4 linked regions of the Homo sapiens genome follow. The protein of the gene in region 2 interacts with the protein of the main gene of each other region in a pairwise test. Each region holds a gene or a part of one and is shown on either strand. Other genes may lie near its edges. The genes, in order: HTATIP2, MTIF3, NAT8 and STARD4.

Evidence for each region.
Region 1: the proteins of MTIF3 (region 2) and HTATIP2 interact in binary tests that used the Homo sapiens proteins (3 or more experiments, as listed by UniProt).
Region 3: the proteins of MTIF3 (region 2) and NAT8 interact in binary tests that used the Homo sapiens proteins (3 or more experiments, as listed by UniProt).
Region 4: the proteins of MTIF3 (region 2) and STARD4 interact in binary tests that used the Homo sapiens proteins (3 or more experiments, as listed by UniProt).

Annotation. Positions count from the first base shown.
Region 1 is NC_000011.10:20,373,692-20,380,723, reverse strand, and holds part of HTATIP2 (protein HTATIP2), read right to left. Parts: intron 4,145-7,032; coding exon 4,007-4,144; intron 1-4,006. UniProt on the Homo sapiens protein: Represses translation by preventing reactivation of elongation factor eEF1A. May also inhibit nuclear import by competing with nuclear import substrates for binding to a subset of nuclear transport receptors.
Region 2 is NC_000013.11:27,435,134-27,440,587, forward strand, and holds the end of MTIF3 (translation initiation factor IF-3, mitochondrial), read right to left. Parts: intron 5,317-5,454; 5' UTR 5,316-5,316; coding exon 4,856-5,315; intron 2,141-4,855; coding exon 1,983-2,140; intron 761-1,982; coding exon 542-760; 3' UTR 510-541; downstream 1-509. Other genes in the region: GTF3A (transcription factor IIIA), read left to right, coding at 1-59, 300-464. UniProt on the Homo sapiens protein: IF-3 binds to the 28S ribosomal subunit and shifts the equilibrium between 55S ribosomes and their 39S and 28S subunits in favor of the free subunits, thus enhancing the availability of 28S subunits on which protein synthesis initiation begins.
Region 3 is NC_000002.12:73,640,214-73,647,235, forward strand, and holds NAT8 (N-acetyltransferase 8), read right to left. Parts: upstream 2,210-7,022; 5' UTR 2,105-2,209; intron 1,490-2,104; 5' UTR 1,416-1,489; coding exon 732-1,415; 3' UTR 510-731; downstream 1-509. UniProt on the Homo sapiens protein: Endoplasmic reticulum (ER)-membrane-bound lysine N-acetyltransferase catalyzing the N6-acetylation of lysine residues in the lumen of the ER in various proteins, including PROM1 and BACE1, using acetyl-CoA as acetyl donor.
Region 4 is NC_000005.10:111,495,511-111,502,542, forward strand, and holds the end of STARD4 (stAR-related lipid transfer protein 4), read right to left. Parts: intron 6,579-7,032; coding exon 6,452-6,578; intron 5,607-6,451; coding exon 5,492-5,606; coding exon of another isoform or gene 5,409-5,491; exon of another isoform or gene 4,961-5,408; coding exon of another isoform or gene 4,944-4,960; exon of another isoform or gene 4,655-4,943; intron 4,597-4,654; coding exon 4,376-4,596; 3' UTR 523-4,375; downstream 1-522. UniProt on the Homo sapiens protein: Involved in the intracellular transport of cholesterol. Binds cholesterol or other sterols.

The sequences.
Region 1 (7,032 bases), on a different chromosome or scaffold from region 2:
ACAAGATTTTATGTGTACACACATTTCTTAGCTTTTTTTTTTTTTTTTTTTTGAGATGGAGTCTCACTCTGTCGCCCAGGCTGGAGTGCAGTGGCGCAATCTCAGCTCACTGCAAGCTCCGCCTCCCGGGTTCATGCCGTTCTCCTGCCTCAGCCTCCCGAGCAGCTGGGACTACAGGCACCTGCCATCACGCCCGGCTAATTTTTTGTATTTTTAGTAGAGACGGGGTTTCACCGTGTTAGCCAGGATGGTCTCAATCTCCTGACCTCGTGATCCGCCCGCCTCGGCCTCCCAAAGCGCTGGGATTACAGGCGTGAGCCACCGCGCCCAGCCCATTTCTTAGCTTTTTAAAAGATTTGTTTTGTCTCTATTAGCAGTGTGCATAAAAGAGATACCATAGCAGGCTGAGACTGCTATCCTTAGAAAGGCCTGTTACAAGTTTGGCCCCTGGCTTGTGCTTGCAACCTTGGATTTTCGGTGTGTTCCCACCATTCCCTATCTGATAAGGGTCATGTACTATGCCTAAACTGTCTGTACAAACAATGTGGTTTATGCTGAAAACTTGCCTTTCTTCTGGAGGGCTGCAATTTGGCTAGGCCAATGTGCCTATGTAACTGGCTCCCATAAAAACCCTGCATTCCTAGGCTCAGATGAGTTTCTCTGGCAGAAAACGTTCATCGCTGGAGACATTAAGCACATCCTGTGCAAGCTCTATGGGGAGAGGCCTCTTGGAAGCTTGTACCTACTTTCCTCCAGACTTCACCCGACACACCTTTTCCCTTTGCTGATTTTGCTCTATATCCTTTCAATGCGATAAGTTGTAGCTGTGAGTATGACTATATGCTGAGTCCTATGAAACCTTCTAGTGAATTACCAAACTTGGGGGTGTCTTTGAGGATCCCTCAATACAAGCAGATTATAAACTCCTTGAGGTCAAGGATGATACCCAATAATAAAATGTCACATGTCTGGAAAGTATACCTTCACCCTGAATAGATGAGGAAACCAAAGCTTATAAACCCTGAGAACAGAGGACATGAGGCCCATCCAGTACTCTGGGCTCCACATCCTGACACGTCTCCCCACGGCACCAGCAGAATGCCCATAAAGCACATGATTGATCCAAGCCCCCAGAGCTGGCCCACCATGAATGAATGCAATTGAAACTTCATTGAGTAGAATAAATGTTCCTAAACAATAAAGGAGTTTCTAAAATTGGGTGGGGCGGGGGAGTTCATACACACATGGAGGCTGAGAAAATAGGCAATAAATACTAGGAATGTTACACACAGTAGTTGAAGGATTATTTTGGAAAGATAATCTTTCCAAATTGTAAAAGCAATTATATATTGTTCAGCGTCATTCTGGGTTGGATCATTTGGTTGTCATTTCTGTCCTTTATTAATCTAATTCATAATCCCAGGCTGCAGGTAATGCAGGCCAATTGCAGTGAAATCAGAAGTGTCTTTCCGTTGTATTGGCCTTAATATTTGCTGAGGCTCTGTCACGGTCCAATCTCTGCTGGGTCCCTTTTGCATGTATTAGTGACAAAGGCTATTCATTACTTAATAGCTAGTGGCATAGGCCTTGGAATCAGCCTGGGTTCAAGCTCTAGCTTTGCCGCTTAACAGCTGGTGTTTTTGTTGTTGTTGTTGTTGTTGTTGTTTGTTTTGTTTTGTTTTGTTTTTGAGACAGAGTCTCACTCTGTCCCCAAGCTGGAGTGCAGTGATGTGATCTTGGCTCACTGCAGCCTCTGCTTCCCGGGTTCATGCAATTCTCCTGCCTCAGCCTCCCGAGTAGCTGGGATTACAGGCATACACCACTGTGCCAGTTAATTTTTGTATTTTTAGTACAGACAGGGTTTTGCCACGTTTCCCAGGCTGGTTTCAAACTCCCAGCCTCAAGTGATCTTCCCACCTCGGCCTCCCAAAGTGCTAGAATTACAGGCGTGAGCCACCGTGCCCAGCCAACAGCTGGTGGTCTTAATATCACAGTACCTGTTTCCACGCAAATGCACATAAAAGCCCTCAGAATACTGCCTGGCTCATTTAGTGTTAGCTATTTTTTTAAAAATCTGGTTAAATCATTATTATAACCCAGTGAGTCAGTAGTAACGCCTTTATCTTTAACAATGAGGAAATATCTTATGTATATTTTCTTTCCTAAAAGGTATAAATGTTGATCTTGCTAATGAGAGCAAAAATCCTATTTGATAACCTTTCTCAGAACCCACATGTGTCAGTGTTTTAAAAAACAAGTTGGGCCTGATCCCTCATGCCTGTAGTCCCAGCTGCTCAGGAGGTTGAGGCTGGAGATTGTTTGAGCCCAGGAATCTGAGGTTGTAGTGAGCTGTGACCGCACCACTGCACTTCAACCTGGGTGACAGAGCAAGACTTTGACTCTAAAAAAAAAGGAAAACAGATTTTTTCCTTTTAAGAATTGTTCTAAACTCTGACAATTAAGTGGAAACTTTTCCATTCTTCATGTAATTTCATTGGTGGCTCACTGATCTTCATCTGGTTCAAAATACTATTTTAGGATAGGTGAGATATGGCTCAGCTATAAGCCATGTGAAAAAAATCTGGAAATTTTTAATATTACAGGCTGATCATGAGCCAACAACATAATAAGGATGTTTGGTAAAATAGTAACAATCTTATATCCTATTTTTTTAAAAAAACATAGTGTTCGGAGCATGAATAGTACTCCCAGTGCAGTTCCAGTATAATATCACTGCAAAGTTCACCCTTAGCAAAGTGATGCAGTCATGAAGGAGCTAGACACAGGAACCCATAAAGAATGGTGCAAGGATTTAAAGGTGTTATGCCTGGGAAACATACAATTAAGGGGGTCATAATCTCCAAATGTCTTAAAAACTACAATGCAAAAGAAAGACTGGACGTATTTTTGTTATTTTAAAAGGCAGAACTGATAACAATTTGTATTTACATAACAATAAATTTCACTTCAAGGTAAAGACTTTTGGACAAGTAGATCTGACCCAAAATAGAAAAAGTTGGCTAACGAGATAGTAATCTCTGTAGTGCTGGAGATATTTAAGCAGAAAGGAGATGAACTTCTGTAAAAGGACTTCACATAGGAAAAGTCTATGGCTGAATGACCTCTGTGGCTCTGCTGCTTAAACTGTGGGCACCTGGGGTGCAAAGGGAGGCACACAAAGACAAAGCCATGCCTATCTTCCAACAGCATCAATTTAACTGAAAGGTAAGTTAATAGAAACCTTTTAAATTAAAATAAACAGGGATATGTATAGTACTAAGAATAGCAAAATGTGCATAAATTTTTAAAAGATAAAACGTTAAGACTTTTAAGAAAGTTGAGGCCAGACGCAGTGGCTCACACCTGTAATCCCAGCACTTTGGGAGGCTGAGATGGGCTGATCATTTGAACTCAGGAGTTTGAGACCAGCCTGGGCAACATGGCAAAACCCCATCTCTACCAAAAATACAAAAATTAGCCAGGCATGGTGGCTCATGCCTCTAGTCCCAGTTACTTGGCGGGGCAGAGGCTGCAGCGAGCCAAGATCATGCCACTGCACTCCAGCCTGGGAACCTGTCTCAAAAAAAAAAAAAAGAAAAGAAAGTTGAGTCTGTAACTAGAATACTGCTTCAGGATAGATTTCTCCAAATCTCTACACAAATAAAAGCTCTTCTTTCCGCTCAGTCATTAGGGAGACTGACGGAAAAGTTTAAGAATCACTGCCTCCAAGTCTCTTCCAATGCTAAGCTGCCATGCTGACAGTCAAGGCTGGAGATGCCATATCTCATTCCATTTGTTGCTGGATAATTAATAGAGAGGAAGACATTGGAAATTACCTTTCCAATCATTCCTGTTTACTAAATATATTCCTGCAGTCCCGTAGCCATACAAATGCATAATATGATGCATTTGATGGTTTTTGTATTATATAATATTTTATATTCTTTAGTACTGCCAAATAGCTAGGGTTCTCCAAAGTGTATGAAAAACAGAAACTTGCACAAACCTTAACTTGTAGATATAAAAAATTGCTTGATTTATCAGCTCCTTTAGAGGATAGCAAGTTGAAATGTTTGCACCCTCCAGCTTTTGCCAGCTCTGCAGACTTCAGCACATAATCTCGGTCAACACGAACAAATCCCTCCTAAGGGGGAAAAGGACATGAGTTATTTCCAAAAAGCAGCAAGTTCATCTTAAAGATTACTACTTGGCTTGGGTAGCAGGCTGGGAGGCCTAGAAGGATGGAGATCTAAATAAAATGTGTCCAAGCAATACATGAAAGTCAGGCTTAGACCCTGGGAAAGGCTCCAGGTCTGGTCCTCTGGATAGGCACACCAGCTTTAGCAGCAAGACTGGACTGCAATAAGGAAACAAGGACAATGACATTGAAACACAGACACCAAACAAATCTGCAAAGAACAAAGGGAACAGTAAGATCAGGCTGAGAAACTACTTTTAAGCCAGACTTTTTTTTTTGTCTTAATAACTTCACAACTTTACACTCCTGTTTTCTGTGTCAATTCTAATGTGGTAGGGTCTCCGAGTATGGGTGAGGACACTCCCCAGGCACTAAGAGAACAAAGTCTATTTAATTCCCAATTTTTGTGTATGCTCTACAATGTACCTCACACATTAGTAAAGAATGCATCCTCAAACGTTTTTATTAATGGGTCTCTAGTCAAAAGTGTTTGGAGACACCCAATCTAGATTCAGTCCAGTGAAGGCAGTGGCTGGGTCTTTTTTCTTAATTCATCTCTCAGCATCAGCACATGTCCAGCATATGGTAGATGCTCCAAAAATGAATGAACAAAACGCCAATGAAAGCAGAGAAAAGGTAAATCCAGTCAGAAACAAACAGAACTAAGTGGCAATAAAAGGGGGAGGGAAGAGAATGACACAAATAACAGAATATAGACTCACTTCCAGGGCCTAACTGAAAAGCATGCACCTTTACCCAGAAAAGGGAATTCCAAGGAGTAACAGTCTCTTGAGACCACCATAAATTCTGGCATCTTCAAACCCAAGACAGCTGAAGACAAGTCTAAAGTCTATTGAAGCTGAACTTTATAGGTAGTCACAATTACAGAATGAGGTCTTAGAGTAGTAGGAATTCCAAATCTGAAGACTGGACTACTGCCCCAGTGATTGATTGATTGAGACAGTCTTGCTCTGTTGCCCAGGCTGGAGGGCAGTGGCGTGGTCTCCACTCACCACAACCTCTGCCTCCTGAGTTCAAGTGATTCTCCTGCCTCAGCCTCCCAAGTAGCTGGGATTATAGACACATGTCACCATGTCCGGCTAATTTTTGTATTTTAGTAGAGACAGGGTTTCACCACGTTAGCGAGGCTGGTCTTGAACTCCTGACCTCAGATGACCCGCCCACCTTGGCCTTCCAAAGTGCTGGGATTACAGGTGTGAGCCACCGCGCCCGGCCTGATTTTTTTTTTTAATTAAAAAATTTGCTCCTCAGTAGTTACTGATTCTAAATGTTCTATTTGGTAGGGCGATGTGTATCTTTCACAGAATGTTAGAAGGTACCTTAGGAAATATCACATCCAGTCCCCTCATGATATAGACAGGAACCAAGGTCCAGTGGGCGGGTGAACTGTTAGCTGGGAAGTGGGAGAGCCGAGAGCAGAGTGCAGATTCTGGACTCTGAGCAGTGCTCTTTTCACTGTACCCATGTTCCTTTTTTATCCCCCACCCTCTCTCGCTAATGAAAATGACTAATCCGTGATTGTGGTAGGCAGAATAATGGTCCCTCAAAGATGCCCACGTCCTAATCTTTGTGAATATGTCATGTTACATGACAAGGGGGAATTCCATCACAGATGGTATTTAGGCAGAAGCAAGATGAATCATGCTAAAACAACAACAACAAAAAAACTGAATTTATTTCACCAGTCAACTGTGTCATTTTGTTGTAACAAACACATTATTAAAATCAGAGTTCTAGTGAACTGGCATGAGGGGAAGAAATAGATGTGGAAGGGAAATTCAGTGTTTTAGAAATTCAGTGTTTAGAATTAGGGTGCTAATCAGCTGGCCTTGAAACAGAGAGATTAGTTTGAATTATCCATGTGGGCCCAATGTAATCACAAGGGCCCTTAAAAGTAAAAGAACGAGGCAGAAGAGCAGGCTGGAGTAATGCAACCTAAGAAGGGCTCAGCTACCACATTGCTGGCCTTAAGGATGGTAAGGGGACCACAGGCCAAGGAATGGGGGTGGCCTCTAGAAGCTGAAAAACGTATGGAAATGGTTTCTGTCCTACAGCCTCCCAGAAAGGAATGCAGCTCTGTCAACACCTTGATTTTATCTCAGGTAAACCCGTGTCAGACTTCTAAGATGATAAATTTGTGTTGTCTTAAGCTGCTAAATTTGAGGAATTTATTAAAGCAGCAATAGGAAACTAATACAGAATTCAATTTTAAAACAATACGCCCATGCAGATTTTTTAACTTTGTATGGAAGTGTATCATAAAAGTAAACATAAGTATAGAGCTCAATAAATTTTCATAAACTGAACATGCTCTGCCACCAGTTCCAAGATCAAGAAATAGAACATTACCATTACTGTAAAAGCCTTCCTCATCCTCCTTTCCCATCACTCACAAGTACATTTTTAACTATATCCACCACCTGGAGGACAGTGTTATTTTTCTGCCTTACTTTTTCTACCTTAGTTTGTGGGTAATATAAACTTACCTCTTTACTCACGAGTCATCACCATCTCCTTTTGTATACTTTTTGTTGTATACTTTGACACTCAGTCCTGAACAACGGACTTGCCAAGCTGTCTATATACCGACTCAAATTCATGCAGTTGCTTTTAAAATTAGTGTAAAGCAAACCAATTTAAGTACTCAGCACATCCTGAGAGAAGTGATTACCCTCAGAGCCATTCTCCAAATGGAGACTTTAGATGTGCTGAAAGTGTGCCAAGAGAAACAGCCCAAAACTACATAGAAAAATTCTAAGACACTAAATTTTTCTTCCACATCTGTTTCTTCCCCTCATGCCAGTTTATCAGAA
Region 2 (5,454 bases):
AAAGTCTCACTAGGCATGCTGTTGTACATGATCCTGACAAGAAGAAAATGAAGCTCAAAGTAAGTTGAAACTACTTAGGCAAGCTTAGTTTTCAAGTGGAAATTGTTTAAGGCCAGAAGGAGTCTGTTTGGAATTCTTTTCACCTGCTTTACTGTTTGAGTCTGCACTACTGTTGAAGACTTTACTTCCTCATAAAGCAATGTTGTACACTATATCTGCTGGTACATATGACTATCGTAAAATTAACTCAGACAGTTTTGATTTTGAATTCTAATCGTGTGTCTTCCTTATTCCCAAAGGTCAAAAAATCTCGTGAAAAACGGAGTTTGGCCTCTCATCTCAGTGGATATATCCCTCCCAAAAGGAAACAAGGGCAAGGCTTATCTTTGTGTCAAAACGGAGAGTCACCCAACTGTGTGGAAGACAAGATGCTCTCGACAGTTGCAGTACTTACCCTTGGCTAAGAACTGCACTGCTTTGTTTAAAGGACTGCAGACCAAGGAGCGAGCTTTCTCTCAGAGCATGCTTTTCTTTATTAAAATTACTGATGCAGAACATTTGATTCCTTATCATTTCCATGGTCTTTGTTCAAAGTGTCTCTTTCCTGGGTCTCTTGAGTTTCTTTATATGCCTTCTCCTCATTTTTGCTGAAAGCACGAAGAACACACATTAAAGCTTTTCCTCCTTGAACAGCTTGTGGCCTAGATGAGAATGTAGCTATTCCAGGCATAGTCTGGAGTATTTGATGAAATATCTCCTCCTAAAAAAGGGAAACAGCCAAAGATTAATTTAAAATCAGAGGCTTTGGTGCTTTCTAATGTTCTGCTTGAACATTCACAAAAACTGGCACCCTTGAATTGCTGCTGTCGGTTAAGTGATTAGCTAATCAGTTCATACGTATCTGGTTAAGTTGACTGAAATCTGTACAATAACACCATGTAACTAAACTGACATGCTGAATGCTTCCTAATTTTAAATCTCCACTTCGTCATGGCACGAAGAGGCTACGTTTGGCTCAGCATTACCCTCTCCCACAAACAGAAAGCACTGGGTTTGGGCATTGGCAAAATACCTCCTCATCCCCAAGGTGTCAGCCGAGCAGTTCTCAGCACTCTCTATTGCCCCTAACAGAGTCTCTCTCAGTGACTGAAACAAATGGATACCTGGGCTCAAGAAATTCTGCATCAGCTGGGTTGCGACCTATGCTTAAGTGACTCTACTGTGGAGCTGGATTACTAAGGATACCCTTAGTGGATGATAAAGTTATCTAACTTTTAAAAAAAAAAAGCAAAATAGGTATTCCATAAACTTATGGGATTGGAAACTACACACTTTCTAGAAGACAGTCTACGTAATTAATGCCCCTATAAGTACAAAGAAGAAACAAAAAATCTATAAAGTTTCTAATTTTCCTGTTTAAGGGTTATTCTACAATTTATAAAACAATAGTATATTGCTTTTAAGGAATAATGTGTTCATATGGCAAAATACGCTGTAATGGAAACTATATCTACAGTATGCTTAGTTTTGAAAAGCAAACTAGAAAGCTGTTAACATCACTGGGTGGAAGAATTACCAGTCACTTTGTCTTTATATTTCAGATTTTCTACAATTTTTTTTTTTTTTTTTTTTTTTTGAGACGGAGTCTTGCTCTGTCACCCAGGCTGGAGTGCAGTGGCGCGATCTCGGCTCACTGCAAGCTCCGCCTCCCGGGTTCACGCCATTCTCCTGCCTCAGCTTCCCCAGTAGCTGGGACTACAGGTGCCCGCCACCACGCCTGGCTAATTTTTTGTATTTTTAGTAGAGACGGGGTTTCACCATGTTAGCCAGGTTGGTCTCAATCTCCTGATCTCGTGATCCGCCCACCTTGGCCTCCCAAAATGCTGGGATTACAGGCGTGAGCCACCGCGCCTGGCCTACAATTGTATTTTTAGATCAGAAGACCCAAAGCACAAGCAGTGGCTTGTACCTTCTTTACTTACCATTTCATTTTCTGACACGTCTACATTTTTTCCTTTCTTTATGGTAATCTGGACTAGGTGTTTTTTCTTAATCCACTGCTGAATCTGTTTAGTCTTTGTGTCCAAATCATGTTGTCCAATATTTGAAGACAAAATCAGTTCCTTTCTCAGGGTTGGTCCTGGTTTGAAACAGATAGGGTGCAAGGACTACTGACTAGTCCACTGTGAACCCTGAACTTCCCAACATGCCCATCATAAAATCCTAGGTTGCCACCTGACAATCTTCTCATCTGGCTTTCAGTTTCACAGACCAGTAAATGTCTTTTCAAATGGGGAAGATACACATAAAGGTACCAATTTTTTACCTGCCCTGGAAGGGTACTTAAAATCTGAAATGCTTCCATTTATTGTTAACCATCGTTTGTTGAAAGAACACCAAAAGATAGTCGTTTAAAGGATCAAGTTTGGCTTCATGGTGCACTTAACATCCTTATCTATCAGCTGTGGGTTGGCATCTGGGAGTGCACTACCCACTCCTTTTGAGATGCTCTCCTTGCTATAAGGGGTCAGCCAGACTGTTGGACAGGTAAGGGTCCCTACATCCTGTGTTCATGCCCTCTGTCTCCAGAAATCCTGCCTACTGGAAAATTATAGAGAAGGAACCGGCCACTCAATAAAGGTGTTGGGACAATTGAGAAGTTTATAGATGACAAAAAGTTAGGTCTCCCCAGGTATACTAATGTTCTACAGGTGAAAAATACAACTTTAAAACAAACAGAAGAAAAGACAGAATGGTTTGTGATCTCAGGATAGGGGATGGAACTCATTAAGAAAAAAAGGCAAAATGAAAAATCTAACTGGGATACGGTTTTTTCCATCATACACAACAGAGAACCCTATAAATCGGAGAAAAACCATCTACGTAGAAAAATAAAGGAATATAAACACGCAATTCACAGAAGAAAAAAGTGAAATACACATTAATTTCTCACCATTAAAATGACAAATGAGGGAGGAGGTAGAGAAACTGCATACACTGCTGCTGAGCAGTTTGATCCATTTAGGTTCATAGACCCTAGAGTATGCACCAGGGTTCATCATAAAGATTGGGGGCCAGGTGTGCTGGCTCACGCCTATAATCCCAGCACTTTGGGAGGCTGAAGCAGGCAGATCGTTGGAGCTCAGGAGTTCAAGACCTGAGCAACATAGCGAGACCCCATCTCTACAAAAAAAAAAAAAAAAAAAAAAGGCCAGGCATGGTGGTGTGCACCTGTGGTCCCAGCTGTGTGGGAGGCAGAGGTGGGAGGATTGCTGGATCCCAGGAGATGGAGGCTGCAGTGAGCCGAAATCACACCACAGCACTCCAGCCTGGGCAACAGAGCAAGACTGTTTTTTTTTTTTTTTTTTTTTTTTTTAAACACAGGGTCTCGCTCTGTCACCCAGGCTGAAGTGCAGTGGCATGATCATGGTTCTTCACTGCAGCCTTTGCCTCCTAGGCTCAAGTGATCCTCCCACCTCAGCCTCCCAAGTAGCTGGGATCACAGGTTTGCACCACTACACCTTGCTAATTTTAAAATTTTTTGTAGAGATGGGGTTTTGCTATATTGCCCAGGCTGGTATTGAATTCCTGAGCTCAAGCCATCCACCTGCCTTGGCCTCCCAAAGTGCTGGGATTACAGACGTGAGCCACCACGCCCAGTGACCTTTTTTTTTTTAAGTGACATAGTTTGACGTCATTATCCTCCCTGGTTGGTCTCTTCTGAATATTGTTTTCCAGTCAACATCCTTGTTAAATGTGGCATTACAAAACTGAGCCGCAGATAACATGTGGTTTTCTGAAGGCACACAACCTCACGATGCAGTGCTGGGAGCAGTCATCTGATGCCTGTCCCCGTGCGCCATCCATTGAACTTTCATAATGATTGGCACTTTTTAGGAACTATGAAAAACAAACATCTTTGCTTAATATCCAATTCCTGACTTCTGTGAGGCTTAAATGACAAGTGCCTCGTCAAGTGACTGGTTGTATATCTAAGAGTGTTGCTACTGATATTGCAACACAATGCTTTGGCATGGGAGATGCTCTGTGAATCACTTCAGAGTCGAAAAGGTGCTTCCAGGCTAGGCGCAGTGGATCACGCCTGTAATCCCAGCACTTTGGGAGGCCGAGGAGGGCAGATCACTTAAGGCCAGGAGTTCAAGACCAGCCTGGCCAACATGGTGAAACCCCCTCTCTATTAAAAATACAAAAATTAGCCGGGCGTGGTGGCGGGCGCCTGTAATCCCAGCCACTGGGGAGGCTAAGGCAGGAGAATCGCTTGAGCCTGGGAGGCGAAGGTTGCAGTGAGCACACATCGCACCACTGCACTCCAGCCTGGGCGGCAGGCAGAGACTCATCTCAAAAAAATAAAAAGGTGCTTCCAGATAATTAACCAAACACCTCCACTTTAGAGTTGAAGAAGGGGAAGAAAAACAAAAGGAGGGAGGTTAAATGAGTGGCCCGGCAGAGGGCAGGGAACTTGAATGTACCCCTCCTAATCTCACTCTGTTTCACCCCATCGGCTACTCAGCTTGCTGCGGCATTGGGAGAAGGCCACAGGACAGGGGAAAGAGTTCTCTTCACTTTGGTTTGTTTGCCTGGTTTCTCCCACATTTTACACAGGTTTAAAGGGAAGAGATAATGGGCAGGGTATTGTGGAAAAACAGTGAAAAAAAGGGAACAGGAGTAAGTGCAGGATAAAGGAGGAAAGACAGACACTGGGAATGGTGGTTGAATCATGAATTTTCTAGTTTCTCATTTCCCTCTTGTCACAGGCACCTTGACAAATGCTAGAATTTAAACTGCTGATTTGTAGCTCTTAAAGGATTCAGGGAGCCAACAGCAAAATACCTACCAGTTTTGGGGTTCGCCTTCTCCATCTCCCTCAGCCTCTGCCGCTCCTGGAGGATCTGCAATCCTGTCATGAGCTGATACTCTGCAGGTTCTGTGCTGGTGTTCCTTTGAACCAGTCGCAGGTCTCGCTCATCCATAAGTCTAATCACATTTGCTCGGTGCATGTTTCCCAAATCATTGCCCTTCTCATCAAATAAGTGAATAACTCGCTGACTAATTTTTCTTCCAACGTTACTAAAAGCTGTTTTATTCTTTTTTGTCTTTTTTCCTTCATTCTGGGTGTCTTCAGCGGTACTAAAGGCTTTTGCATGAATTAGGAAGGAGAGTCTTGGGGCAGAAGCAATAGGGGACAACTGTGCTGGTGCTGTCTTTTGCAGGATGTGTTTACCAAAACATCTAATGCAACTATTTTCAGACTTTACAGTTTGTAGTGTTAACCTCTTTAGAAAAAGAGCAGCCATCCTAAGAAAGTAGTAAGAAGAGTTCATTAAAATTCAATCACTTATTCCCTTGGTCTGACATTGTGGTACATGGCAGGGTGTGTGTGAGGTTGTGGAGGCTGTAACTGCAAGTGTGAGGGAAATGCTGTTCTCTAGACTT
Region 3 (7,022 bases), on a different chromosome or scaffold from region 2:
ACCCAGTCTCAGGTATTCTGTTATGATCCCCTGGAAGAGTTATACTACTTCCAGGTCTAGCCCATGGTAAATCCCACACTCCCCTCTGAGGCCACCTTCTTCCCTCTGCAGAGACCCTGGAGTTAGAGTGGATTGGTTGTGTCTCTGGCCCCAATTCTTCTCCCGAGGCTGCATTCCACCCTTTTGCTATGTGACTTTGCAGCCCTTCTCACTGCAGAGACAGGTTCCTCTCCTTGAGTTTGGGGAAGATGCAACACATGCAGGGGTTTGAAAACACATTTGTTTGTTTCTGCTTTTGTTTTTGCTCCTCTGCAATTTCCTTGAAACCATGCCTGAGGTAGCCTGTGGGAAAACGAAACAGCACCATTGACCTAGTCTTTCAGCCAATCCCACTGCATTTGTACAATGCAGTCTGACACCAGAGGAACTGCCCAGCCAAGCTCAGGCAAAATTGCTGACTTCAGACTCATGAACTAAATAAATATTTGTTTCATTTGGTGGTTGTTCTTATGCAACATTATGCTGGCACTAGAAAAATGAAACAGATGGGAATCAAAAAGACTGAATGAAGCAGAAACCCAGAAGCTACCCCACAAGCAATCACATGGGACTCAGATGTGAATGGACAATAAGCTTTTATTGCATTGAAAGGTCATTGCAGTGAAAGGTTGGGGATTGCTTGCTGCTACAGCTGAATGGATTCTATTCTGACCAATACACACAGAAAGAGATCACAGACTCCCTACCTTAGAAGAAGGGAGGTGGTAGATGAAATGAACTGTATGAAGAGCCACTAGCCTGGCCCACACACAGAAGAAGGACTGGCCCGTCTTCTTGAAGCCCATGCTCTGGTAGAGGGCCATAGCAGAGAGCTGGATGGTGCCGGTGTCCAGGATAACTTCACTGTAGCCCTGGTCCCGGGCAAACTGGAGGACAGTCCTGACCAGGGCTTTTGCTATCCCCTGACGACGGTGCTCACTGTCCACAAAGAGATGAAACAGCTGCAACCGCTTCTCCCTCAAGGTGGGATCATCAACAGGCAGAGCTCCTACCATGCCCACCACCTTCTCTTCAGACTCAGCCACCCAGAAGCAGGAGCCACGCTCACTCAGGTAGGATTTGGTAATGTCAGACATGTCTGTGCACAATGTCATGTCCACATACTCCGTCCAGGGTTTTTTGGCAAGGAACCACAGGGCAGGGAAGAGGCTGATGCTGAACACGAGGGCTAGAAGCCAGGATCCAGAGACCAGGAGTAGGGCGAGGGGCCCCCCAAGTAAGAGTATGAGGGTTCGAGGCAGCTTCAGCAATTGCCGGAAGGTGGCTGGGGCATGCTCGGCCATCCCCCGGGAGAGCAAGCCCACAACCCACTGGCGGTCGCTCTCCTGGTATTTGCGGATGTGACAAGGAGCCATGGACAGACTTCTGTGTCTGAAATCTCTAAGTCCAGGAGACAGAGCTAGGCCTCCCTGCACGCCTTTACGTCAGACTGGGGAAGAGAGAGAAAATCATGTGAGTGCCTGCATGGCTCCCAGCCTTGCAGGAACAGGGAGACCTGCTCAAGGGTGTGTCTTTCCGCGTTTGCCCATGAGGAAGCAGGCCTCTGCCACTGGGAGAAGGTAGGGTCAGAAAGACCTGCATTGGAATCTGGTTCCATCCCTTTCTAGCTGTGTGACCTTAGGCATGTCACTTAACCTCTCTGAGCCTCCATTTCTTCAACTATAGAACAGGGGAGAAGAAAACCTGCCTTCTAGAGTTGTTTTGAAGATTGAATAAGATGCCTTCTATAAAGCCCTGGTAGATGAACTACCCACCGCTCTTCCTTTTTCTGTTTCCTTTTTCTGGCTCTCTCAGCTTCTCCGTGCATTGAGGGGGCACCTACCTCAGGCAGGCCACACGTGCAACCCTTTTGTCCTTCTCCAGGGACCATACATCGCAAAAATTCTCTGTCCAACACAAGTTTCAGGAAAGGCTCCCTCCAGCTTTATTGTAAGTTTTTAGGTTGCTGAAGTGGCATAAGAGCCAAGCATAAAAAACAGCCCAGCCTCCAGATCCCAAGGAAGGTGCATGCTCAGAGCACTGTCCTTCCACCCAGTCCCCTCACCTGTCACCACAAGAGCCTTGAGTGTCCAGGGAGCTTCAGCTCTCAGCCGCTCACTGGCATCCAGGAGATACCGTCTGGGGCTTGCTCACCCCTGGAAAGTAGACTGCCTGCCTTATTGCTTGGCTCCTGAATGTTTGGTAATCATCAACCCTAGGGTCAAAGAGCTGGGCTGTAACACAGCAGGGAGCCCAGTGTGCATTCCTCTTTGTGGTCAAAGGGAACGACCTGGAGGGGGAGACTCAGGGTCTGGAACCGCCTGGGTTCCTTGCCCTTCTGGAAGGCCTGCCACCTCTCTTGCCTGTTCAGGCCCCGTGCATCTCTCTGCCACCTGGCACACTTAGTACTCTCGGTCCCTGTCCACATATACGATCCACCCTGGTCCTTGTACACATATACGACGAGCCTGAGAACTGTACCATTCACCCTGCAATCAGTCACCATTGGCCAGAAGCCGAGTCCCCATGCTTGGCAACAAGGCCCTTCCCAGCTAGGCTTCTCCTCGCTGAGGTTTCCCTGGTCCACGAAGCATCTGTTGTTGGCAGTTCCTTGCACTCACCTCACCAACCCCCATCTCCACCCATTCATTGATTCAGTCAACAGTTGTGTGTCATGCACTTCCTGTGTCCTGGGGTCATTTCAGCCATGAGCAAGGTTGACATTCGGCTTGACAGGCATGGCTGTGTGTGGCTTGTGTGTGTTCTGGCTGTTGGTCAGAGGCTGTGCCACACCCGTTGTTAAATATTTTGCACTGCAGATGTTGGGGAGGCCCAAATTCATGCTCTTGTACCCGACGTGGAGCTGATCCCAAACACTGACACATGGGTGCTTGGAGATAGAGAAAGTTGTATTCGATTTGGCCAAAGCAAGAAGGCAGGAGAGCAAGATCTCTCAACTTCAGTTCAACAAAGAAGCAGCAGCAGAATGTTTTTATGCAGCTAGAGAGTGAGGAAGGGGGAGTTCAGGGGGATTGAGAGGAAAAGTCTGTGTTTCCTCAGTCTGAGATAACACCTTGTGCAACCAGGCTTCTCAGTGTCAGCAGCTGGTCACAGTGTCCTTCAAGGCATTCATTCATTCTGCAAACTTTTCCTGACCCTGAAGGAATGTCTTCCTGCTGAACAAAGAAACAGTACATGAGCAGTTTATCATTATGTTGTGGGAACAAGGAATATTGGACCAAAAGCAAGTGGTTAACATGTGCAAGCCAGCAACGGTCTGATCAGAATGTTCATTATTTCAGTCACTAAAACATGGTGTGGTGCTGAAATCTCAAGGGGCCCAATTACAAGGATGCAACATATACAAGATAGGCAAAAGCAAAACCTAACAGAAAAAGCCCTTTTCCACACCAACTTACATGCTATTGAAGGGAAACTTCCCTTCCAAAGATTAGCTAACCTATTGATGATCAGCCACGCTGGGCCCGTCATCTAGGTTAGGTAGTTTGGACTCTATTCCAAGAGCAAGGGGAGGACATTGATATGCACGGAGGGGAGGAGGTGTGTGTGTGTGTGTGTGTGCGCACGCAAGCATCACTCTGGCTGCAGGTGGACAATGGATCTGAGGAGGTAGGAATGGAAGCAGCTACCCCTCAAGGCTCATGCCACATCCAGGCAAGAGCGGGGCCTCCAGTACAGGGATGCAGGTGCTCACTGTACAAGAGCAGCTGGCCCAGAGGCTCTGGTGGGAGCTAAAACTGGGCCTCCCTCTGGTTGCCAAGCCATGAGCCATGGCACGAAACTGAGACTGGCCAAAGGAAAAGGCAACCTTTTCTTATTTGCTCAAAGGCGTTGCTTGCCTGCTAAACTCTGCATCCAGTGGGCTGCATGGCTTGAGGCTGTGCCTAGCTCTGGGTTCACAAAGAAGCCGCCTGGGTTAGCAGAGGCCCATGAGACAGCAGTGGCTTCACCAGAGGGAGGAAGTCAAGAAGGTGAGACATGAGCCGTATGGAGGTGCATTTGGGGCAGAAATGGCAGGAGTTGGAATGATTCACACAGGGAGGAGGATGAGGAAGGGCTCAGAGACGACAGCCAGGCTTCTGGTAGGGGCATTCAGGAAAACACTGGAGAGAGCCCAGATCTGGAAAAGTCAAGGCTTCCCCTAAAGGTGCTGCCCTGCAGCCTTCTTCAGCAGAAACCAGAAGCTGGGAGTCAGCAGCAGGAACCCAGGGCCAGCCAGTGGAGGCTGCTGAGATTCCAGATCTTTGGTACCCAACACCACCTCCGAGGAAAAGTCTAAGGAGCATCAAGTCTGGGCAGGAAGTCCATGGCTCATCTTTAGAGTGTTCTCGCAACATTTCAGTGTCAAGCAGGAGTTGGCCTAGGAATCAAAAGAGGTGAGCGGTGGCTCCAAAGCACCACTGAGTACTTCTAGTGTGAGTCTAACCAATATTCAGTCAGAAACCTGCCGGTCACGTGGAGGGGGAGAGGTTTGTGCTCCGTCCCTGTGTGCTGTCTCTCCCTCCATGCTCACCCGTGGCTGTGGCTTCCTCAAAACACAGCGACCTCACTTGACATTCAGGCGTCTCTTGCTCCCAGGATTTACTGTGACTTCTGCATTTTTGTAGCTTTCCTGATAAAAGCCTGGGCTTTCCTTGTCGGACCTGAAAGATTCATTTATTCATTCAACAAACAGTGGCCGAAGGCTTGTTATGTGCTGTGCCTGGACTTGGCATGAAGGCACCAGATGTCAGAAGCGAGGCTGCTGCCCAGGAGGACACACCTGATGGGGCTCTGGGACCAGGACGATGGTGGAGACATCACATCCGGAATAACTTTGTTAGGAAGGTGAACTTGACAGTTAGGACTTAGTTCTCCTTGAAGACGTCCTTCACATCCCTTGTGAGTTGGATTCCTAGGTATTTTATTCTCTTTGAAGCAATTGTGAATGGGAGTTCACTCATGATTTGGCTCTCTGTCTTTTATTGGTGTACTTGTGATTTTTGCACATTGATTTTGTATCCTGAGACTTTGCTGAATTTGCTTGTCAGCTTAACGAGATTTTTGGGCTGGGATGATGGAGTTTCTTTTGTGGGCATTTAGTGCTATAAATTTCCCTCTACACACTGCTTTAAATGTGTCCCAGAGATTCTGGTCTTTGTTCTCATTGGTTTCAAAGAACATCTTTATTTCTGCCTTCATTTCATTATGTACCCAGTAGTCATTCAGGAGCAGGTTCAGTTTCCATGTAGCTGAGTGGTTTTGAGTGAGTTTCTTAATCCTGAGTTCTAGTTTGACTGCAATGTGGTCTGAGAGACAGTTTGTTGTAATTTCTGTTCTTTTACATTTGCTGAGGAGTGCTTTACTTCCACCTATGTGGTCAATTTTGGAATAAGTGCGATGTGGTGCTGAGAAGAATGTATATTCTGTTGATTTGGGGTGGAGACTTCTGTAGATGTCTATTAGGTCTGCTTGGTGCAGAGCTGAGTTCAATTCCTGGATAGCCTTGTTAACTTTCTGTCTCGTTGATCTGTCTAAAGTTGACAGTGGGGTGTTAAAGTCTCCCATTATTATTGTGGTGGGAGTTTAAGTCTCTTTGTAGGTCTCTAAGGACTTGCTTTATGAATCTGGGTGCTCCTGTATTGGGTGCATATGTATTTAGGATAGTGAGCTCTTCTTGTTGAATTGATCCCTTTACCTTTATGTAATGGCCTTCTTTGTCTCTTTTGATCTTTGTTGGTTTAAAGTCTGTTTTATCAGAGACTAGGATTGCAACCCCTGCCTTTTTTTGTTTTCCATTTGCTTGGTAGATCTTCCTCCATCCCTTTGTTTTGAGCCTGTGTGTGTCTCTGCACGTGTAATGGGTCTCCTGATGGTCACACTGATGGGTCTTGACTCTTTATCCAATTTGCCAGTCTGTGTCTTTTAATTGGAGCATTCAGCCCATTTACATTTAAGGTTAATATTGTTATGTGTGAATTTGATCCTGTCATTATGATGTTAGCTGGTTATTTTGCTCATTAGTTGATGAAGTTTCTTCCTAGCATCGACGGTCTTTACAATTTGGCATGTTTTTGCAGTGGCTGGTACCGGTTGTTCCCTTCCAGGTTTAGTGCTTCCTTCAGGAGCTCTTGTAGGGCAGGCATGGTGGTGACAAAATCTCTCAGCATTTGCTTGTCTGTAAAGAATTTTATTTCTCCTTCACTTACGAAGCTTAGTTTGGCTGGATATGAAATTCTGGGTTGAAAATTCTTTTCTTTAAGAATGTTGAATACTGGCCCCCACTCTCTTCTGGATTGGAGTTTCTGCCAAGAGATCAGCTGTTAGTCTGATGGGCTTCCCTTTGTGGGTAACCCGACCTTTCTCTCTGGCTGCCCTTAACATTTTGTCCTTCATTTCAACTTTGGTGAATCTGACAATTATGTGTCTTGGAGTTGCTCTTCTCGAGGAGTATCTTTGTGGCGTTCTCTGTATTTCCTGAATTTGAATGTTGGCCTGCCTTGCTAGGTTGGGGAAGTTCTCCTGGATAATATCCTGCAGAGTATTTTCCAACTTGGTTCCATTCTCCTCATCACTTTCAGGTACACAAATTAGATGTAGATTTGGTCTTTTCACATAGTCTCATATTTCTTGGAGGCTTTGTTTGTTTCTTTTTACTCTTTTTTCTCTAAACTTCTCTTCTCGCTTCATTTCATTCATTTGATCTTCAATCACTGATACCCTTTCTTCCAGTTGATCGAATTGGCTACTGAGGCTTGTGCATTTATCACATAGTTCTCATGCCATGGTTTTCAGCTCCATCAGGTCATTTAAGGACTTCTCTACCCTGGTTATTCTAGTTAGCCATTCGTCTAATCTTTTTTCAAACTTTTTAGCTTCTTTGCGATGGGTTTGAACTTTCTGCTTTAGCTTCGAAAAGTTTGATTGTCTGAAGCCTTCTTGTCTCAACTCGTCAAAGTCATTCTCTGTCCAGCTTTGTTCCG
Region 4 (7,032 bases), on a different chromosome or scaffold from region 2:
GTTAGGATTTTAACATCTGCGTTTTAGGGGAACACAAATATTCAAACCATAGTACCAGATGTTTTATTAAATGAGGAAAGTAACTCCCTGCTTCACAGTCATATTTTCTATTACATACTTACCACAGCATCCCTAACTGCCTTCTTATAACATAGATCGTGGGTGTCCTTGTAATCACTTTTAGTTTTTTTCAATTCCAAACAAAATATCATAATTCCTAATCAAGGTAACACAATTATTTCAACATGTGTACAATAAATCCTGTCCATAATTTACAAAGGCACAATATATTATTTGTTCTGAATATATAATAGCAAATAAAGTTTCAGCAGTATTGTATAACAGCTAATATTATATGAGACACTGGCAGGAGAGATCAGCATGTGTGTTGTTAATTTGACTTTCCAGGTTTATATTTTCCTTTTGTAAGAATTCAGGAAGTTAAATTACATACTTTAAATTCAGGCATATGAAACTAAATAGTACTTAATGTTAAATTACAAAGATAATATCAATGACCAATTTTAAGAGTGTCTACAAATTTTTATTTTGTTTCATACCAATTTAAAAATAAATACATATTTTATTGATACTAATACATATTATTAGTTTAATAAATATTCTAGTTTTACATATTGGTTCACAAAAGAATTATATAAACTTCTTAAAAATAAAATCTATACTATAGCTTTTATTGAACTGCAAGAGATGAATTTTAATATTTAACTATACATGTAAAATCCGTAAAAACAATACAATAATTTAAAAATTATAGTTCCAACTTCCTGTTTTTTGAAATTATTCTGATGTTTCTTCTACACTCAAGTCCCAACCTTCTCTACTTCTAGAAGTTGAATAAGAAAGACATGGAAGATACAGCAGGCAGGCAACACAGGTTCTAGGGGAAACCTGATCAAGCCCTTAGCTTCTCTAGTTCTGTTGATTTCTCTACAGGGTAGGGATCACTACAGTCCCATTTAATTAAAAGAAACTGGATTTAAAACACCTGATTCTAAGGACGGTGGTACACTCTTGAGAAAAGAGTTAAAGCTTTTATTTGTATGAAAGGCAATTACTCAGCCCTAAAAGCTCAACAGACAATTAAGGGCTTAAATTATACAATGTTTTCCCATCTTCTCCAGATACAACCTCAATTACATAGTTTTTTAGCTTGAGATATTAATTGAATTCAGCATGATTGTTGATAAAATGCCCTTTGGTTAGAAAAGGAGGAGGAGAGAGAAGGGAGGGGAAGGAAAAAAATTCTATTAACTAGGAGATGTTGTACAGATAGAAATCTACAATTTCAAATATATCCAACCTGAATGAACACTGAAATAAAAAGATTTTTAAGATTTACAAGCTCCCTAGTACTTTAGCAATTTATCTTATAGATTAGTTAACTACAGAATACTAGATTCTCATTATTTTTTTTTGAGTACTGTTTTAAACTTTAAGGGTTAACTAAGAGTTATCAACACAAACTAATATTTCATGCAAAAGTATCACTTTTATAATAATCTTTTTCTTGTATGAAACTAATTTCCTTAAAAAATAGCTACTATATACTGAAAACAGTATTATGCCAAATATTTCCCACATACACAAGTTTCTAATACGTACTACCTACAAGCTACAGAATAGTCAACCATTTAACAAGAAGGCAGATTATATTCTTTCATTTCACCAACTGCCATATCAAAAGTTACTTATCTTTGAAGGAAAATATTTGCTGGCAATAATTTTATCTCATTGACAACTGATTTATATCTAAAGTTTAGATGTCCTATTTATCAAGCAATGAAGGCTCTAGAGACTAACAAAGATTTCCATTTAAGATATTATTCCGTATTATTGTCTATTTCATCTTACTACAAGACAAATTAATAAATATGCTATAGGACTGTGCTATTCAATACAGTATCCACTGGCCTCATGTGGCTAATGAGCACTTAAAATGTGGCTTGCCCAAATTTGTAAAATGCATACCAGATTTCAAAAAATTAGTACAAGAAATAGTACAAACTATCAGAATAAATCTTTACATCAATTACATGTTAAAATGATAACATTTTGGATGTATTGAGTTAAATAAAATATTAAAATTAACTTCAGCTGTTTATTTTTATTTTTTAATGTGGCTTCTAGAATTTTTTAATTACATATATCACTTACATTATTGTTCTATCCTACAGCATTGCTATAGAAGCAGCGGACTCAATTATTTATGTTAATATCCATCCCAACCCACATCATTAAGCTTTTTTATCATTATAGTATGAGATAACATATTTAATACATGATCACAAGATTCCTGAGCTTAGAATCATGAACACCTCCACTCTTAAAAATGAAACCAAACATAACCTGCTGTAATTATCCTGGCAACAGTGATAAACTTTAGATTTGTGTTAGGTATGAGTCTGCAAAAAAGACAAAAGGAATCTTTTGGAATGATGGAAACGTTCTAAATCCAGATTGTGCTGATGGCTGCATAGTTCTACATATGTATTAAAACATCACTGAATTAGATACTTAAAAGTGGGTAAATTACATAATATGTAAATTATATATCAATAAAGCTGTTTTTGTTTTTTTAAAGTACACAGCTAGAGCCCAGCAGATCTAAGGGGCCATCTAGAAGCTGCACATACATTTTAGGTGATTCAAACATAATTTTTAAATTCATCATTCTCACAGTGAAAATGTTTCCATGAGGGTAATTTTACCTAGAGTGGGTCCATGTTTAACGGTGAATTATGTAATTACTTATTGGAGGTATATGTTGATAAGGACAAAGAGAGCACTAGAGTAGAGATAGTGGGCAGTTTATTTGCTTTTAGGGACATCCAGTTCAGGAAATAATAGCCCTTATAGTAATGTGTACTATCTTGTCACAAATCCCTTACTCAAGTTAGGCACCTTTGGAATTTCACCATCCTAGATAGAACAGTAGAATATGAGACTTCCTACTCTACGCTAATAAAAACAAATAAAAAATAGATGAAGTCAAAACTAACATTTACCAATTTCCATGAGAAACTGAAACTAAACTACTGAGTTTTCTTTCACTATTGCAGAACAAAAAAAAAGAAGAAACCTAGTAATTCAAAAGTACATTCAATTTAGAAAAGGATCCTGGTAATTAATAAATCATTAAGAATATAGAATCCTTTGTGCATTCCTTCTGTCAGATCTTGATCAATCTAGATACTATGAGATAATTCACCATGAACATTGTGCTGCTGCCACCTTTTGTTTTTTGAAATCTATCATCACCAGTGGCAAAAAATAAATAAAAACAAAAGCAAAAAACAGCTCCACTGTTCCACTTTGTCAAAATGGGTATGAAGAACTTTGATTTATTCTTTCTTTACACTCAAGAAAACACAATAAAGTAAAACACAGATCAAACTACCATGCACTTGAAACACTATGTACCTTTCTGCATTTCATGTCTTGTTTAGCATGTATTTCAGGGCTCACTTTACCCATATTAACAACAACAAAACAGTAGACACAGGAATACTAACACATAAACAACTAACATTAAACACGGAAATGGATTTCGAGATGTGTGCATGTACACAAAAAAATATATACAAAGATTTGCCTGGATACCTGAATTGCCTCAAGTTCCCATTTTAGAAGTAAACTAGATGGAGAGTTCAAAACCCAAAGTCATTTAGAATGTGAAAATCATTTAGAAATTCTCACTTAAGGCACCCACAGAATTAGGGGACCCACAATACTCAATTCTAATCATTATAAAATGATATCTAGGCACTTGGGTAAATCTAAGACTGTATTTGTTCTAGTTACAGACTGATGCTTTTAAGAGTCTCAAGATAAGTCTTGGACACCAACTGAATTCCACATTTTAAATTGGGGCCAGGCATGGTGGCTCACGCTTATAATCCCAACACTTTGGGAGGCTAAGGTGGGGAATGACTTGAGGCCAGGAGTTCAAGACCAGCCTGGGCAACACAGTGTGACCACATCTCTACAAAAAATTAAACAAAAATTAGCCATGCATAGTGGCGTGCACCTGTATTCCCAGCTATTCAGGAGGCTGAGGTAGAATAACCCCTTGAGCGGTCAGATCAAAGCTGCAGTGAGCTGTGATCATACCACTGCCCTCCAGCATGGGCAACAGAGTGAGAGCCTGTCTCAAAATTTAAAAAAAAAAAAGTGAAAATGCCCTCTCTTAGATAGCTATTTACTTTAGGAATAAAACCAAACATTGTACTAGTGAACCAAAAACATTTCAAATTTTTCTACCGGCTATGCAGAAAAGTGGAATCAATGATTTTTACAGGCCATGTAGCTGAGAGAGTTGATCTGTAGTACTACAAGTTTGAATGTATTTTGCCTCTCATAAAGCTTTTCGTAAATCACCATAGAAGTTGGTTAAAGTGCTTGCCATGGCTGTATCTACCGCAGACTGAGGAATCATCCCACGCAGATCTGTCTGAATATATCCTGTCAAAAGACTCTGGTTTGGGTTGTCTTTAAGTGGAACACAAAACCAACCACAGGGATGGTTATATCCTCGAACAAATTCTGGTCTCTTTTCATCCCAGTCAAGACTTATTCCTATAAGGCAATTTTTAAAATAGCACTATTAATAGCAATAACTGACATAAAACTCTCATTTTAAAATATTACCAGAATTCTTATTTAAATATTTATTATTATCCATATAGATGAAAATTAAATCCCAAAGTGACCATGGCAGAGTGAAAAAGAGACTTACCAAGGAGAATTCTGACAAGAGGTTGGCAGATAGGTAATGGGGAAACTTTTAATCCTTTCAGAATACATGACATCATATCATCTTAGTACTCCTTGGAAGCTACAAATCTTGGTTGTAGTATCCAGGCCTTGAGGTGCCAAAAATCAAATCCATGGTACCGTAACTATTCCCCACAGCGACTACCATATTATAGTTTGGTACTGGCTAGTTAAGAATAAACAAGTAGATGTTTACTTACAACTGCTAACTTAAGTATACACTATATACAAAATAATATTAATTTACCTATAGGTACGTTTTAGAAAACAGGAGCCTTCCAATGGCAGTATTTTTAATCTTGAAAAGAAAAATACAACACAGCTCAAGGAAGGAAGAATATTCTAAGACACACCAAATCTAGTACTTCTCTGTGTATGACCAAGAAACTGTTTTCTGAGAGTGGCTTAGAAGAAAATCCATTTACTAGAACCCTTTCTTAGAGGCAGTCATGTGATCCACATTTGCTACCTCTGACCTAGAGGATACTGTGTAACTGGGAACAAAAACTTATCAGAAGGGTTTCAAAACTCTTTTGATATTGCTATTTTACTCCCTAGAGTTTAGCACTTGCAAAAAATGTTAGTGATTACAGAGTCAGAGTTGAAAATATATCTCACAAGGAAAGAGACATCCAGCCAAGAAAACACAAATATTTAAACCATACTGAAAAAAAGCATAACATGTTGAGATTATTACCACAAGATAAAAGCCCTTCTTTATAGCCCACAGTATAGGAGAAATCAACAAATTCTCTTGGGGAAATTATATTCCAAAGCTGACCAGCAGTAGTGTAACGCATCACACAGCAATTCTGAAAAAGAAGAGATAAGACAAGTGTTACTACTATAGGAAACATACATAGCTTCATATATCATAAACTTATCTCTGGAAAGAAACTAATATTTATTTAAAATGTTTCATAATTATAATAATTCTTACACTGATTCTGACAGGTCTAGATCTCTATTCTAAATCTCACTGCTATTGGATGGCCATGAAGAAGATATATAATCAAAATACAGAGGTACAAGTTATCCAGTATCCAAATATCTAATTAAATGCAGTTGTCTTATTCTACATAACATTCCAAATGGAATTAGGGATGTAGACTGTTTCAGTGTTTAAGATCAAATCCACAAATACTTTGACTGCAACATCAAACATTTTAAGTAAAAAATTCAAACATTAAGCAATGAATTAATAAAAATAGAAACAGGGCAGGTCATTTTGGCTATATAATTTTAGAATATCTAAGGTGGCATTTTTATCTTTGGTCATTGATGTTGGCTTAGTATTAATGGAAAAGCTGCACACATTCACCTAGAAACCTAAATATGATGGTGGTGTTTTCAGAATTTTAGATTTCAGAATCTTAACTAAAGTTTTACAATGAAGGATGCTGAATATAGTTTTAAGCAGCAAGGGTATAGGTACTGTGGAAAAGAAACTCAGTCTAACACTCATTAATTAGTATGAGGAAACACAAACTTTTTAAGAGGCAGCATGGGACTCCCCTGTGATATCTTTGTCGTGACTGCTATTCTCAAAGCAATGAATATAAGTGTGTACAAATGCTCATGCTCACATGCTCTGGCTCACTCATGCCCTCCCTCATGCACATACACACAGTCTAAAGTAATGTTTCTAAATAGATACCTCTTCAAAGTTCTCCAGAATATCCAAAGAAGTCATCAAGCTGTCCCAATCCAAACGACAAGGCCCTGGGCGTATATGGTCTATTATACTATAGACAAGGTCATCTATAACACCTTGGGCTTTGTAGCTGGAGAAAAAAAGTTTAAGTCAACCGCTGTTACAATAAAAAAATTTCAGCATACCCTTATAGTGCATAGCTAACTTTGAAAGTAAGGAAAAAAATTAGGCCGGGTAGGGTGGCTCATGTCTGTAATCCCAGCATTCTGGGAGGCTGAGGTGAGTGGATCACTTGACGTCAGGAGTTCAAGACCAGCCTGGCCAACGTGGCAAAAACCTGTCTCTACTAAAATTACAAAAATTAGCCAGGCATGGTGGCATGCGCCTGTAGTCCCAGCTAGTTGGGAGGCTGAGGCAGGAGAATCACTTGAACCCCGGAGGTGGAGGTTGCAGTGAGCCAAGATCATGCCACTGCACTCCAGCCTAGGTGACGGAGTGAGATTCCATCTCAAAAAAAAAATAAAAATAAAAGAATAAAAATTAGTGAAGGGTGGGCCAGGCATGGTGGCTCATGCCTGTAATCC